2 separate regions of the Homo sapiens genome follow, and region 1 is linked to region 2. Evidence: fine-mapped expression QTL. A gene starts in region 2. The other region holds a variant in brackets. All regions are shown on one strand. Distances are from middle to middle.

Region 1 (5,379 bases), 200 kb after region 2:
GAGGTACCTATGTCGTAATACTCATTCTGGGAGGAGGGGGAACCCCAGGCCAGATTTAGTGCAAATTATTGGTTGAGTCAGGATCAGCCTTTACTGCCCCAGGTTTTAATTTTCGGTATATGCTTTGATAACTGAGGCCTCTTAGGACATAGATACAGCCTTCCTCTACCATTTTTAATTTTTTTAGACTTCATTTTGTGATTTATTGCTGCTCTGGGGGCTTCACATCCAATCCTTTTATGGTTTCATCTTTCCTTTCCTTACATTTGTTGCATATAACAATGGCGTGTTTAGCTACTGCAGTGAAAAATCAATCAAGCCTATTCCATATTCACAGGCTTGCAATGGCACCAACGGCTCCTGGATTAGATTAACTTTGTGAATGTGTCATTCTAGTATGGGTAATTTCTCAACCTTCGCTCTATCCTCCCCATCCTGCCTCGGCGGGTGGATATTGAGATCTCTCATTGATTGACTGCCCTGAAAGTGAATGCTGGCATGTGATGTGTGTAACTCAGTGGGATGCACATACTCTGTGTTTATGAAAATAAATAATAATTTCTGTTATCATTATTGATTGCCATCATTATCTGATTGTATCTGTCAGTGTCATGGGGTTTCAGTTATGGGATCAGAAAGCCCTCCACGAGAATTTAACCACTACCCTCACTGACAAGCCTTTGTGTTTTGACATGTTTCGCCTTTGGGGGATGAGAGTTTGGGATGTTTCTGTTCTGCTCATTGGCTAATATTTTTGGCTAATGTTCAGAGACATGATGATAATTGAGTTCCATGTCAGCCAAAGGAACTACTTCAGTTGGAATTAAAAGAGAAGCTAACATTTATGCTAATGTTCCAAGAACATTTTGCATGCATTGGCTAATTTAATCTTCAAGATAAACCTATAACATAGGCACTGATATTATCCTTATTGTAGAGATGTGATAGCTGAAGCCAGGGAAGTTAAGGAACTTGCCTTAGGTTAGACGGCTAGTAAGTGGTAATGCTTGGACTTGAGTGCACGTCTTTATGACTCTAAAACCCAAGCTGCTGTCCTGCCTCTTGTACTAAAATAGAATGCCTAATATATGCATCTGAATATTCAGTGTAAGCCAAAACACATATGAGTAAGCAGGGGCTGGAAAACAACTTTTCAAGGAGATTGTAAAAGTTACTGGTGCCTTGGGCACAGGTGGGCTTTCTGTTTAATTTTGGGAAAAGGCGGGGTAGGAAGGGTACATGAAACTAGGTCATGGCTTACCAAAGCTGGATGATCATCAGACTCTGGGAACATCTAAGTCATCTCCAACCAAGTGACTCAGAATCTCCAGGAGTGTGGCCAAGACACCCACCCGTATTTCTCGGCCATATTCTTGGCCATCCTGAAGATCAGATGGGTTTGAGACCCTTTGGCATAATGATCTCTCTACTCAAAAGTAGAGATTCTCAGATTTGATTTTTAAAATCCCTTCCTTTTTCCTCTTGTCTCCTCCTGCCTCAAGGTTCTGTATAGATCAGTCTGAGGACAACATTATTATCAAAATGTGGTTGCCTTTACACTAAGAGAGTGATTTGATTTAGAATGAGCATCCATGATGATTCTGTGATTGTGAGCTGTTAGTGCCTTTTATAACTCAACTTCTTTCCCCTTCTTACTCCTGGTCAAGTCATGGGGGACAGCCTACTTAGTTGCCAGTGTGCTATAATAGTAACACTATTGCAGACATTTATTAAGTATGTATTATGTGCCAGGCCTTCTGCTAGGCAGGTACCATCTCACTATGCCCAGACGGCAGCCTGTGGAGTGGGTACTACTGTTATTCCCATTTTGCAGATGAGGACATTTGATCTAGAGAGCTATAGTGACATGCTCATGTCTATAGCTACTAAGTGGCACAGCCATATTTTTAAACCAGGTTCAAGCTGACTCCAGAATAATAACTATACTTTCTTACAGAGGTTGGGCTGATAAAGTCACTTGTTGAAGTGTTTAGCATAATATCTTGCCATCAATAGACGCTTAGTTTATGTTAATCCCTTTCTCCTCTTTTTTCCCATCTTGTCTTTTACCTAGAGACTAGGAGTTTCAGGAAAGCATGATGAATATATTGAAAAGTTCGAAGTAGTATTACATCTAGAGACTAGCAATTCATTATGCTTTGAATCTGCCTTTGTACTGACTCTCCTACGCTGCCTTGCATTCAGAGTGTATTCACTGACAATAAAATATTTTCTTTCATCCCAAAGGTACCTTTGTTATGCTGCACTTACCATGTAGTAATTAGATCCAACATAGACGTAAATATAAGCAGAACCCTATACCTGGTTTAGGATCGAGTTCTCTTTGTCTTTTGCTCCCAAACCCTTTGGAAGGTGTCCATGGCTTCTTGAATGTGATAGGAACTAATAAAGGACACCTCCCATATGTACACTCAATGGCAGTGGCAAGCTGAGACGTCCACTAGTGTCAGAAAAAGAAAAGAATCACATTACAGAAGAAAATCTGGATGTTTCCATGGCCTCTGGTGCCATTTATCTTGAGATTCCCTGGCCATAAAGCCTGATAGTGTTACAGGCTCTGACACATTGTCTTTCCCTAACCTTGGTTGTTAAATGGTCTGAATTTCAGAGATGTGGGAAGGTTGACAGGGCAGAGTTCTGGCCTTTTTAGGGCTTTGCAAGTAAGGATCTTGTCACCATTCCAAACCTGATTCACACTGACCCAGATAGGATTTTCTCAAATGAGAAGTTATTAGAGTGATTCTCCCATCTTTTCATTTAAAGGGCTCTCTGTATACTTTTCAAAGGAAGTGAAAAATCAAGGATAATTGGATGATTGAAGGAGAGAATACTTTTATTTTCTGAATTTTTCAGATGAAATTATCTGAATTATAAGCGTAATGGGAAAGACATTCAGCCCACACCAGGTCCCATTTCTGAAGTGTGAGCTCACTGTTGCTAGAGCAATGGGTGTGT[C/G]TCCGGTCCCCGAAACTACACGTGCATGTGTGGGTGCGTGCAGGCATGTACATGGCATACAACACCCAAGCAGGGCATTGCTCAAGAATCCTAAAAATGTTAACAAAGTAAAGAGCTGACTTTTATTTATTTTTCAACTAGACTTTACTAATAGAAGATCAAAAATACATGCCTAGATCCCTTTTTGCTACTAGGTTATGCAAAGAACTAATTTGAAATCAGTAGAGGACTTCTAGGGCCTCTGCTCATTATGCATTAGGATTTTTGTAGAAAATAATTAGTGCAAATGGATTTGGAATCCAACTCAATAGAGGACATGATCACTTTGATCCTAGTACGTTGCAAGCCGGGCTTCGACTGATGCATTGATGTAAGCATTTTAAATACCAGTCCTTACCAGAGAAAAATATTTTAAATATTTCCCTAGGGGTAGTGTGCATAGCAAGATACTATCTTGTCTTTGACGCATAAAAACAAGATCTTGGTTGGAGAAAACTACTTACAAGGGTGGTTTCATGTTAAAGGAGACTGTTTTCAACAGAAAAATATATTTTATTCTCTGGTTTCCTTAGAATGGTTTAGCAACAAGGAAAGGAATTTTCTACCTGAAAGGTGTTAGGTTTGTGTTTGTTTGGGTGGAAGAAGGTGGGTCATGCTCTTGTAATTTGTTGTTGTGATCAGATGAGTTTATTTTCTTTTTACCAGAAAACTGTTAAAAGCAGTGGTACACACATGCATACACACACTGTCTCACACAAATGTCTCTGGCTCAAGTAATATAGGAAACCCTAGCTTAAACACAGTTAAGCAAATTTATTTACTTCAGGATTTCTGGGAACTTTTTTTTTTTAAGTGTGTGCAACGCTGTGGTTTTTTTTATTATTATTATTATACTTTAAGTTTTAGGGTACATGTGCACATTGTGCAGGTTAGTCACATATGTATACATGTGCCATGCTGGTGCGCTGCACCCACTAACTCGTCATCTAGCATTAGGTATATCTCCCAATGCTATCCCTCCCTCCCCACCCCACCCCACAACAGTCCCCAGAGTGTGATATTCCCCTTCCTGTGTCCACGTGATCTCATTGTCCAATTCCCACCTATGAGTGAGAATATGCGGTGTTTGGTTTTTTGTTCTTGCGATAGTTTACTGAGAATGATGATTTCCAATTTCATCCATGTCCCTACAAAGGACATGAACTCATCATTTTTTATGGCTGCATAGTATTCCATGGTGTATATGTGCCACATTTTCTTAATCCAGTCTATCATTGTTGGACATTTGGGTTGGTTCCAAGTCTTTGCTATCGTGAATAATGCCACAATAAACATAAGTGTGCATGTGTCTTTATAGCAGCATGATTTATAGTCCTTTGGGTATATACCCAGTAATGGGATGGCTGGGTCAAATGGGATTTCTAGTTCTAGATCCCTGAGGAATCGCCACACTGACTTCCACAATGGTTGAACTAGTTTACAGTCCCACCAACAGTGTAAAAGTGTTCCTATTTCTCCACATCCTCTCCAGCACCTGTTGTTTCCTGACTTTTTAATGATTGCCATTCTAACTGGTGTGAGATGGTATCTCATTGTGGTTTTGATTTGCATTTCTCTGATGGCCAGTGATGATGAGCATTTTTTCATGTGTTTTTTGGCTGCATAAATGTCTTCTTTTGAGAAGTGTCTGTTCATGTCCTTCGCCCACTTTTTGATGGGGTTGTTTGTTTTTTTCTTGTAAATTTGTTTGAGTTCATTGTAGATTCTGGATATTAGCCCTTTGTCAGATGAGTAGGTTGCGAAAATTTTCTCCCATTTTGTAGGTTGCCTGTTCACTCTGATGGTAGTTTCTTTTGCTGTGCAGAAGCTCTTTAGTTTAATTAGATCCCATTTGTCAATTTTGGCTTTTGTTGCCATTGCTTTTGGTGTTTTAGACATGAAGTCCTTGCCCATGCCTATGTCCTGAATGGTAATGCCTAGGTTTTCTTCTAGGGTTTTTATGGTTTTAGGTCTAACGTTTAAGTCTTTAATCCATCTTGAATTGATTTTTGTATAAGGTGTAAGGAAGGGATCCAGTTTCAGCTTTCTGCATATGGCTAGCCAGTTTTCCCAGCACCATTTATTAAATAGGGAATCCTTTCCCCATTGCTTGTTTTTCTCAGGTTTGTCAAAGATCAGATAGTTGTAGATATGCAGCGTTATTTCTGAGGGCTCTGTTCTGTTCCATTGATCTATATCTCTGTTTTGGTACCAGTACCATGCTGTTTTGGTTACTGTAGCCTTGTAGTATAGTTTGAAGTCAGGTAGCATGATGCCTCCAGCTTTGTTCTTTTGGCTTAGGATTGACTTGGCGATGCGGGCTCTTTTTTGGTTCCATATGAACTTTAAAGTAGTTTTTTCCAA
Region 2 (5,379 bases):
TAGTTGGCCAAATGGAAACCTTGAAATCTACTTAAACAATGGAGACCTATCCAATCTGCCTTCTCAGAACATGTGTCTTAGGAAAAATGCCTGGACTGTTGAATAAATGCAGGAGAAAGTTTGCAGCATATGTGAAAAGAAAAATAAATAAACCCAGAGACTCGATCTGTGGAAGGGACATTCTCCCCATTGGTTACAATGGAAAATTCCTCAAGCACAGCCTGGCCAATGAGCCTGGGCCTACCTGATTCATCACACAGCTCTGTCCCAATCTAGCCCTTGATTCAGAAAGATACAGGGGAAATTTTCCCAAATACTATTCCAAGGCCTCCTGAAACAATTTTAAGATCATTCCAACCGAAGGCACAATGTCTTCTCATCATTTTGATTCACTAAGAGATGAACTTAGCTTTTCCCCACTCTGCTCCTACTCCAAATTGTGCCAATATCCAAGAGAAGCTGCAATGTGTAACTACAAAAGGACTGAATGTTGGAACCTCGGTGATAGATACAGCTCATCCCATGGAAGAACCAGCCACGACAACTTGTACTGAAGTGGATTAAATCAACTTGTACCCGTCTTCACCTGTTACTAAAATTTTAAATGTGGATTTTGAACAAACAAGTGTATAAGTCTTAAGCACTAGATGAAAATAAAATAGAATCTATTGAAAGTTGAACTGAACTCCCCCCACCACACACACACACACACACACACACACACACACACACACACACACAAAATAACTATGTCAAGGAACATTTCTGCTCTTTTCTCCCAGGGATATGCAGTCAATTTCTGGAGATGAGGAAGATGTCATTTTCTATCTACCAGAAGTATCCATACTGCATGGAAATCTAATGACAATTCCCAACCTCAGTTAAGGACTTGTTTTTCCATTTTTCTGAACTTCAAATACTTTCTAAATTGTGTTAGCCGAAGCATTGTATGTATATAATTAACTCATAGGTCCCTCTGGGCCCATCTAGCTAAACTTGTGGAGCTTAACTGAGCAAAACATTTGCTGATGTCTCTCCCTACAGTGGTACCCATTGAAATGAATACCTTCTACAAGATGAAACCTAGGAAATGTCGTTTCCAATTGGCTTTCTACTGATTGGGGTTGATGTCTTTTCCAAATTGGCTTTCTAGTGATTTGGGTTGCTTCATTAAATGTTTTTGGTTGTTTCATAACAATAGTAATCTCATTTTCTTTCAAAAGTAGAGTTTGAAATTTGGGAAAACATGGGTGGGGAGGGAATTCTACATTTTCTTCCTAGTTGAAGTAGGAAGACAGGTCTCTTTTCTGTATTAATTGGACTCCTGAAATTCCCCCAGGGTAGCAGTGGCTCTCTGTGGGCACAGGGCTCTTATGCTTATGTTTCTGTGCTTCAATGTACCTTCCATGCTGACAGCAAATAGAAGGTGTTCCTGCACAAGCAAAACCTAACGGAGAGGCTGCAATAATTTGTCCAAAACGAAGTGCAAACTGCAAGGGAGAGTGGACTTTTTCAGACTGATCCTGTTTACTAGTCTGGTGCTTTCCTCCACCTGTGTAGACACAGATGCTTTATTGAACACCAGCCTCCTACAGTTAGAAGGTATTTTGACTCTTAGGAATGGGGGAACCAGTTGCAAAGTTCTGGCCCCTGATCCCCCTCCTATTCCTACTAGAGGGCTTAAGATAGGCTCTGAGCGGCACTTCCCACTTTCTCCTCTTTTTCTGAAGCTTCGAGCCCCAAACCTCGCCCTTTAAATTCACCAAGGGACCACATGCATCATATAAGGGTGAGGAAAAGGGACCTGGATGTAGACTTCCTGACTATCCAAAGGAACCTACTTCTCTTTGCTGTTCTCAAGTTCAGGCGTCCGGAGAAAGGCAGGGAGCTAGGGGCTCTGGGTGCTAGCGTAGACGTGGCCCTTAGCTGAGTGGCGCGAGAGGGGAGGAGGTTGGAAGAGCGCGTCTATGCGTTCCACCTGAACCTGCAAGCTAGTCGCTTGCTGCCCAGGTGCCGATTCGCGGCTGCATGCGCCCCACTGCAGCAAAGAGCAGCCGCAGCCTCTGCCTCGGCCACCACTGCTGCTGGGAAAGAGTCGTGGGGCTGCTGACGCGGTTGGGAGGAGCCTCGCCTTTAATGCACCAGCCGCCTCCAGCCTCCTGCAGCAGCAGCAGCAGCAGCAGCAGCAGCAGCTGCGAGTGCGCGCGTGTGGGTGTGAGGGTGAGTGCGCTGGCGCCGGCTGCAGCGCCCTGCCCAGCTCCCCGCCAGCTTCCCTACCCCCGCCTGCCGGAGCCGCCCTCCCGTGGGACCAGCACCCTCATTCCGGCCAGGCAAGCCTGAATCCTGTCCCTGCCATCTCGCCACTGCAGCTCGGGTCCAGAAAGGCACCATTTTGTCGCGGCTGCCCGCTCTCCCAGGGGGAGGAGGGATCTTTTTTGCATTTTGGAGCGGCTGCCAAGGAGGGGAACCTGTTGGGCATCTCCCCAGACCCGCTTGTGAGCGCCTCCGGGGCGGGCGGGCGGGACCAGACCCCTCGGGGCACGGCGTATCTTGGCACCCGGAGGCAGCGGAGGCAGGCGCAGCATCCTCGCTGGGAACTGGAGCTGGAGTGAGCGCACCGCGCGGGAGGAGCCGCCGCAGCCTCGCAGAACCCGAGTGGAGGAGGTGACAGCTCCATTGCCGGGTTTTTATTTTTTTTCTCTCCGCCTCCCCGTCTCCTCCTCAGGCTCGGACCATGGTGCAGTCCCACTGGCTCCCCTGCCCCCCTCTCCTGTGAGACTGGCTGCGGGGAGGGATCATGGATACTTGTCTGCCGGCTTCTGGTTCCCACGCAAGTAAGCCTGCTGTCAATGGAGGAGGACATTGATACCCGCAAAATCAACAACAGTTTCCTGCGCGACCACAGCTATGCGACCGAAGGTAACGCCAGCCCCGCCGCATTCCGCCGTTGGGGCCGGGCGCAAGTTGCGGATCACTGTGCTTCCTGGGCAGCTGGGCGCGTAGTGGCGGAGACTCCTCCGGGCCCTAGGGCTGGGGCGGGGGCTCGGCTGGCCCCGGCAGCCCCAGTGCACCTCGCATCCATCCGGGCTCCGCGAGGCGAGCTCGGCGTTCAGCAGCAGGTGGACCCGGCGCCCACGGGAGTTAAAATGGCCCTCAGGGATTAGGCTTTTTCAGGGTGGGGCTCTCGCCCAGAAAGATGACCCCAGGAAGGCAGATGACCCCTTCCCCGAGATGTTCGCAGGGGTCTTGGGGGGAGATAAGAAGGGAGGGGCCCAGTAGGACCTTGGTCCCCCCTCCCTGAGCGAAACGATGTTATGTCTCTCAGTGGCTGCAGGGAGGGCAAGGTTTCATTTCCTGCCCATTCATCTCCCCGGCCGGCCAGGTTACCTGCTTAGACAATCAAAACCCCAAAAAGCCCTTTGCAGACGGGCGAACCTCTTTCCTTTTGGAAGTGCATTAGCAAAAATAAAAAGGTGGCTGGGGAAATAGTGCTCTGGCGGGCAGCGAATGAGGCTGACACGTGGGGTGAGCAACGCGATCGGTGGGGCCTTTAAAAATCACCATTATGAATTCTGCAGCAGTAGTTTCTGCTGAATCAACAGCCAGCAGAAAGCAAAAGGGTTCAGCAAGCTGAGCTTTGCCAAGAGGTGAAATTGTCGTCTCTCCCTCTCTCCCAGCTTGTTCTGACATAAGCACTAGTGCTGTGCGGGCAGGAAGGGAAAGTCAGCAGGTGGAATCTCATTCTGCCTTTTGTGTGTGAATAGAGAGTAGAGGCATTTTTTTCCCCCAGTGCCAAAACTTTTGCATTTTTGCTTTCATTTTCTACCTGTAGGCCTTTTATCCTTAGCCACTCATACAAAGTGTTGCATTATCACATTGTAATATCCATGCGAGAAAATGTATGTGGAAATGCTTTAGGACAATGTTGCAAGGTGTATTAATTTAAAATTATTATTCTTGGATGCTAACATTTCTGTAATATTTAATCAAATCAAAAGACTGCTAGAGAAATGTGATGGGGGGAGTAAAAGAGTTCAAGCTCTGAAAGAAATAAAAAGACACACACACATCTGGGGGTAAAGGTGGCATCTTCTATAAACATCCCTGGAAGTTCTAGACAGAAAGAATGTCCAGTGCTATTGAAAGTATATTCTCCATTTGTCATCATTTTTGGAGAGCATCAAGCCCAGTATGCCCATGGTGCTAGACAGATAAAGCAGAGTTGTAAGCTCTGGCTTCCAGGAGCTTAGAGATGGCTTTTAAGATGTGCAGCCCATCCCTCCCCTATACAGAGCACCATACTTACCGATTCTTTTTCTGTGCATGATGGCAACCTGATTGTAAGATGTTCTCCCTCAATCTTAGTGCTTTGTCACTGACTCAGTGACCTGATAGCACATGACTAACTCTGTATCTAAGCATGTCATCCAAGAGAGAAGTTGGCCTTGGGTCTGTTGGCTTTTGGGGGAACATTTATTTCTGTTTGTAACCACAAAGAAAGAGAGCTGCCTTCATGTTTTCTTGTATATTACATTATGCAGGCAAGAGAAACTTAGCAAGCTGAGAAAATGCCCAGAGTGGAGCTATGTGTACAGGAGTGTCAATTGTGAAGTGAAGAAATCAGTTAAAAATGGCATTCTTTATTGTTTTCAGGGCCCTGGATATTACCGTTGTTCTTATTTTTATTCCATTTTTGAAAACTCTGATTCTGGATAGAATATCTAGGTTCACATAGTCAAAAATAGATATGAGTTTATAGCAATGAGATTTCTGGCATGTGAGAATCAACCTCTCAGATTTCTTTCTCTTTCTCAAACACACACACATACTAATCACACTCAAAACTAACAAACCTTTATTTCACAGAAGCTTCTAGGTTTTAAAATCTGATCTTAGAGAAGGTATGAAAAGAAAAGGAAAATAGAACTTAAACGATGTAAATACCAGAAGTTGGATAGAACAAGAAGTTCCCTACAGTTTTGACCTATTCGTTTCAGGGAAGATTCATGCAATTTTGTTGCCAGAGGGGGAAGAGTCCCTGTTCTTCCAATGAATTCCTTAAGAAGTGTTAGTATACCTTGAAAAAGCACCAGATCAAAAGACTTTTTAAAAATTCTCCTCACTGGGGACTTGCCCCACAAGTTTTCTTCCCCCTTATTAACTTATACCCTCTTACTGGGTGGGGAATTAGCTTCTAGTCCTTCCATAGATCTTGCTTTTCTGTTTCCTTTACTATTTCTACATTTTCCTCCTACCTGCTCAGTTATGTCAGATTGTTCTTTTTTTTCCTCCAAAATATCTCCTTCACATGTATTTCTGAATTTTTCTTCTGTTTGCTCAGATCATTCCACATTGCAGTGTTCTATTTAAAGCTGAAAG

Which allele goes with the higher level. Alleles are on the strand shown, and positions count from the first base shown. SD is a standard deviation of normalised expression in the study named.
In carriers of allele C in region 1, the expression in sun-exposed skin of the gene that starts at base 2,164 in region 2 tends to be higher than with G alone (moderate effect, 0.54 SD a copy in GTEx).

Evidence for each region. PIP is the estimated chance that this variant, and not a neighbour inherited with it, causes the effect. A credible set is the group of variants that fine-mapping cannot tell apart.
Region 1: its variant is the best candidate, but not a certain one, in a credible set for the expression of PPP2R2B in sun-exposed skin (GTEx, PIP 0.68).

Annotation. Positions count from the first base shown.
Region 1 is chr5:146,679,030-146,684,408 of GRCh38, reverse strand. All of the region lies in intron 5 of PPP2R2B (protein phosphatase 2 regulatory subunit Bbeta), which reads left to right. Among named protein-coding and RNA genes, the nearest start is that of PPP2R2B-AS2, 120 kb to the right of the region's middle. The variant C/G (reference allele first, on the strand shown) is at 2,977.
Region 2 is chr5:146,875,542-146,880,920 of GRCh38, reverse strand. PPP2R2B (protein phosphatase 2 regulatory subunit Bbeta) reads left to right here and starts at 2,164. Exons shown (of 10, transcript NM_181675.4): 1 at 2,164-2,330; 2 at 2,726-2,919. The coding sequence starts at 2,850.